Regions from separate parts of the Homo sapiens genome. Here region 2 is linked to region 1. The links come from fine-mapping of genetic effects on gene expression. A gene starts in region 1. The other region holds a variant in brackets. All regions are shown on one strand. Distances are between the middles of the regions. Region 1 holds the start of DOK2 (docking protein 2). Region 2 overlaps XPO7 (exportin 7).

The links. PIP is the estimated chance that this variant, and not a neighbour inherited with it, causes the effect.
Region 2: its variant is fine-mapped to the expression of DOK2 in whole blood (TOPMed, PIP 0.90).

Annotation. Positions count from the first base shown.
Region 1 is chr8:21,912,263-21,915,174 of GRCh38, forward strand. It overlaps DOK2 (docking protein 2), which reads right to left and starts at 1,428. Exons shown (of 5, transcript NM_003974.4): 1 at 1,277-1,428; 2 at 1-248. The coding sequence starts at 1,339.
Region 2 is chr8:21,964,918-21,967,829 of GRCh38, forward strand. XPO7 (exportin 7) reads left to right here. Exons shown (of 28, transcript NM_015024.5): 2 at 1,940-2,086. Among named protein-coding and RNA genes, the nearest start is that of XPO7, 47 kb to the left of the region's middle. The variant G/A (reference allele first, on the strand shown) is at 1,304.

The DNA of each region.
Region 1 (2,912 bases):
TCGCCGCGCTCCGCTGCAGGGGCCGCCAGGAGGTACAGGCGCTCCTTGGTCTCCAGGAAGAAGGCACTGGTGTCCCGGGGGCTGCTGGCCTCTCCGCCGGCCTCGGCCACCCGCAGGCAGTCACTGAGGCGGATGACCTTCCGGGCAGCCTCACACCGACGAGGCTTCTCCGGGCCCTCCTGCAGCTCCAGCCGGGCCAAGGCGCAGTCCGACCCTCCATACAGTGAGGCGCCGAAGCGGCGCCATTTCTGTGCCAGAGGCGTGGGAGGCGGGGGCGGGAGGGAGCCACCCAGAGACGGGGAGATCGTGAGCCAAGGGGAGAAGAGGAACCGTGGGAGGGGGACTGGGGCAGCCACTTGGAGATGGGGAGAGAGAGGTGAAGATCACATGAGACCCAGGGAGGCAGAGAAGAGGACAGTGACTGCAGGAATTAGAAAATCGGAGATCAGCCGCCAGCCCCGAGAAGGAGGCCCACGAGCAAGAGCAGAGACTGCCCAGGCAGAAAGCAACGCCGGGATGAGCCCAAAGCAGGCTGCAAGAAGGCCAAACAGGCCCACCGCAGTGGACTCCAGTCTGGGGAGGAAAGCGGGGCAGTGGCCGAGGCCCAGAGGAGGGAGTGAGGAGGGCGGCGTGTGACCCGGGCTGGAGACCTCATTCTCCTTCTGTGCGAAATCCTGAAGGAGAACTTCTCTCCACCCTCCTGAACCTTGCTGCCTCATTCCTTGATAGGTTGGGCCATGAGAGAGAGACAGGTGTGCCCCCCAGTGTTGGTTAGGGGACGAGGACTTCCTGGTTCAAGGAGGCCAGGGAAGGGGAAAGAGGATGGACAGCCGGCTGGGGTCCAGGCCCCCAGAGGCCCCAGCCCAAGCTGAACACCAGCCACATGCACCCCACTGGGGTTGGGAAGGAACCTCTATTGTCATCCTAAACTGTCCCTCCAGCTGCCCCTTCCATTCCCTTCCAAGGTGTCCGGTGAAAAGAAGTCAACATAGAGCAAGAGAGCAAAAGAGGCAAGAGATGAAAGCAGCACATCCCCCACCCCCACCCAGGGCAAACAGCCCTCAGTAAGGAGCACAGTTTGGGACCTGGTTGGGGCCTGGTTCAGGAGACAGCGTCGGGTAGGAAAAGAGCCCTCCCAAAGTTGAGCTCTGGGTCTAACTTGGTGGGTGCACAGTCAGACCTATAAGGGTTTTGAATATGAAACTCCCTCTCCAACCCAGGAATTCTAGCAGCCTCCCAGGCCCCCTGCCCAACCCCAGCCCAGCCTCACTCCTACCTTTCCAAACGTCTGCTGCTGCTGAAGATACAAGAAGCCTTGTTTCACTGCCCCGTCTCCCATCCTCTGACCATCTCGGAGCCCCAGGCTTCAGCTCTCTCCTTCACTCCTGCCCTTGCCTCTCTCTTCTTAGCCGTGTGTTTCCCTTCTCTGAAGTTCATTTCCTCTCTGCCTAGGGTTTTCTATACTATTCTAGTCTGCTCGATGACGACAGGCTGATAGGCCCTGCGGTTTCTTCTGAGTGTGTGTTCTTTTTTTTCTTTTTTTTTTTTTTTTCTGAGTGAGTTTTATACTCAAGCTTCCTGCATTTCCAGTGAGTTAGAGACAATTTCCAAAAAGCTAAATGCCAGCTCTTCAGTGAGCAACAATTCAGGTACAGAAGTTGGCACAGGGAGGCGCCAGCAAAGAGTGGCTGGCCCACTGGAACAGAGACCCAGAAACCAAACTAGACAGTGAAATCAGTAGTGAAGGCCCCCCCCTCCAAGCTGTACGCAAGTTGGAAGGGACAAACCACTAAGTTACAAATAAGGAAACAGGCTTGGAAAGTCTGAGGGATTTATTCAAGGTCACCAAACCAGAACCCAGGTCTCTCAACGCTTAACAGCTGAATGACACACACGGCACTGCACAGAGAGACACATAAGACAGCTCATGTGGGCCTAACCAGATACCAGTTTCACAAACACACACACACAGAGAGAGAGAGAGAGAGAGAGGCAACCGTTTAACTACATGCGAGCACTCCCTGTCTGCCAACAACACACACTCACACCAACCCTGTAAAGATTCTAGAAAGATGATCATCCCCTCTGGAGAAGGGACTGACTCCCCAAGTACATCTCAACTGTTGGATTTTTGCCTTCTTGCAAGCATTCCTGAGCATTAGAAAGATGCTTAGGTTTCATCTGCAAATTATCTTAAGTTTCAATAGCAATCACTTTCATATACATTTTGAAAATGGTTCAGAGTTACCGAAAGTGCTTCGTAGCTCGCAAAGCTTCTAGGCACACACTTTTCATCAGCCACGCCATCCTTTGACAAAGGCAGGGCAGGTATGAACACACTTATTTGCAACTTGCCTGAGGTCACAGAGGTAGTTGGGGGCAGAGGAAGAAGTAGAGACCAGGGCTCCTGATCTTTAATTCAACATTTTGCAGGGCCCCTAAATGGAATCCAGATCCATGCAAAAAGATCCATTGCTGTGGGGAAATCCAAGCTGCTCAGAGAAGTTTAACTTAAAGCCAGATGGTTTAGAGAAGCAATCTGTATGGAGGCACAGTGCAGAAGGGTTGGAAAAAACTGAGACTCAGACCAACACTCTTGGGGTTAATCCCATAACAGGTGCTTATATAAACAGGCCCATTTCCTCTACAACAGGGGTTCAGTTACCGTGGCAAGGAGCGAGCAGCACCGTGCACAGCTTAGGCCTTCTGCTGTACATGCCATGGACTGGACCAAATAAGCTTGAAAAAAATGAATGTCATGAGCTCTGTGAGGACAAGGATGAGTCACTTCAAACTCACTGCCCTCAGCCGTGATGCCTGGGTTTGAAGAGGTTGATCCAAAGCTCAAGGGAGAACCAAGCATACTGTTTTGGGAAAAGCACACCTTGGGAAGTGGTTAGGGGTATGGAAAT
Region 2 (2,912 bases), 53 kb after region 1:
ATCAGACTTTAAGGAGAGCCATTATACCATAAGCATCAGGACTGTTCAGGGAGTGTCTGTTCAGGATGTTGGAAAGCTCAAAGTGTGTGATGGCTGTGGAGGTTCTGAGGCTGCTGCTGCTCCCCAATACCTGATGCCAGGTTTTATAGCAGCTTACGTTTTAGTTAAACAGTGTCTTTCTCTTGATGTCTTTCTTGTTACCTATTTTCCTAAATAATTTTTTTCTTTTTTTTTTTTTAAGGGAATCATTTTGTAGGAGGGGGGAAATAGATTTCAATGTTGAAACAAAACCTTGTGAAGGAGATTTAATGCCTTGTTTAGGAATGTGAGTGGTTATAATTAAACTGATTCAATTCTCAATAAGGTCTTGAGCAGTACTGGCAAGCATAAAAATGGCTTTTGCATGTATTTTATGGAATGTATGTAATTAGCCTTATTTTCTACTTGTGTTCATAAGCCATGTGAATAAACTCAGGTACTACTTATAGAACTTTATTGCTTGAGATCTGACTTTGCAATTGCGATTTTCTCTGTGCTTTTGAATTGAAGAAGAGATTAAGTGGGACCCCTGGAAGTCAGAAACAAGTTAAACATAAGCCTAATCAAAGTCCCAAGATGTTGTGAAAGATGGTTTGTTTCGTTTTAAGGGCAAGGTTGTTGTTTTGTTCTTTTGGGGGCTGTCTGAAGTAGGACTGATGATCTTAGGGCGTCAGTATTCATCGTTCTTGTTTCCTTTCAGTTAGTGTTGGAAATTTATTAATCAGGTTGAGTAAAATATGAATCCTGCCCCAAAGGCTTTCCTACTTAGTGGAAAAGCTGTGATTTATAAAGACACAGTGTAATGAAATAAAGTGATAATGAAAAGCCTTGGGCAGACTGGCTGTGTAATATATTTTAGGCAATTTACACAGGTTGGTTTAATTATTATTATTTTTGTTCTTGTCAGAATTGTCCTTTCTAATAGTAGGATCCCTCAAACTATCCTTGCTGCTGGTGAAAATAGGCTCCAATTTTTTCTTAAAGTCCAAACCATTCCTTTAAAGGCTAACAGATGTTTACTCTCCAGTCAGTGAAAGGTGATATTGAAGTATAGTCTTAATTAGTTACTTTCCTCTTTGCCTTTAAACACCACATTAAGTGCAAGTATATATGCCTCCCTATGGGTTTTTGACCAAAGCACACACCCATACCCCTTCCTGCCTCCCTGGAACTGGTTCAAGATTTGGAGAGAAGAGTTTGCTTGTGGGTGTTTCCCTTGTCTTATCTGTGAGTGAGCATATGCTAGGGTTGAATTTATTTTGAC[G/A]CTTTCATTTTAAATTTGGAACCAAAGTAAGAGTTTAAAGTGCAACAGAAGAGAGTCTGCTGAACTTTAGACATGAGGGATCCAGGGAGGAAGGTGCGTAAATACATCTTGAAGCTTTCTCTAGAGGTTTTCTCGTACAGGTGACCATCTTTACGCATATACATTATTGTAAGCTAATAACTACTACTCAAAGGAATATTTAAAGCTATATGAAAATGTGTGTGGTACTTATATCATGTTTATGTGCTTAATTTTAGTAGCCGTGCCTCTGGTATTTCACACTTTTTACATTAATAGCAGAATAAGTAAATTTTGAATTTTTATTTCAAAGCCTTTTAGGAAAGCTTAGGAGGCTGGGTATTTGCAAGCGGAAAAATGTATCATGTATGATTGATCCTCAAGGGAATGATGAAAAAGTTATATAGGTATTCTAAGCATCTTACCATTTTGTCTTCTATAGCATCAAATAAAGAGACCTATAAATGGTTATTAGGTGAATGTTACCCAGGTTCTCCTCAGTTCAGAAGCAATTCTTTCTTTACTGATTATTATTTATCTTTGTTTATTAATTTTAAGCACAGTTGCTTACATTTGTAGTAGGCTGAACTGTTTTCTTTCCTGACTGATCTTTTCCAGAGCCTGGCCCAACTAGAGAATCTGTGCAAACAGCTGTATGAAACCACAGACACAACCACTCGACTCCAGGCAGAGAAAGCCTTGGTTGAATTTACCAACAGCCCTGATTGCCTGAGCAAGTGCCAGCTACTCCTCGAAAGAGGAAGTGTGCGTAAGATCTGAAAATCCTAAAGGATAACAGGCGCTTCGGAAACGTTATTCTGGTTCTCTGTGTAGGAATGGCATGGGATGGCTTCTGTTCCCTGATTTTTCTAGGTGTCCCTGACTTATTTTCACTTTTAAGAAGTACCATACCTACCAGGTTGGCAAAACAGCCATACAGTCTCATCAAGAAAATCTCTTTGAACATGCATTTCTGTTCTGTAATTTTTCATCCTAAATTTCCAGAACTTGTTTTCTGCTTTTACATTTAAGTGCCACATCCTGTCCTTTCCAGAATAAGATAGGACTGTAGATAAATGACCTTTGTGTTTGTTTATTTATTTATTTTTGAGACGGAGTTTCGCTCTTGTTGCCCAGGCTGGAGTGCAATGGCGTGATCTTGGCTCACTGCAACCTCCACCTCCCGGGTTCAAGTGATTCTCCTGCCTCAGCCTCCCGAGTAGCTGGGATCACAGGCATGCACCACCAAGCTTGGCTAATTTTGTATTTTTTTTAGTAGAGACGGGGTTTCTCCGTGTTGGTCAGGCTGGTCTCGATCTCCTGACCTCAGGTGATCCACCCGCCTCGGCCTCCCAAAGTGATGGGATTACAGACGTGAGCCACCACACCCGGCCAATAAATGACCTTTTTAATCCAAAGTCCTAGTACAAGATCCTCAGTCTTCTCTGTGTTTTGTGTCCTCTCTGCCACAGCTGCTGTTTATTGCCTTACAAATCCAGGAACAGTGACCTTGACAATGAAATTACAGGAGATTGTAGGATTTTAAATGGAATTAGAACCTCCTCCAGCTTAAAAATGGCATTGCAGTGAT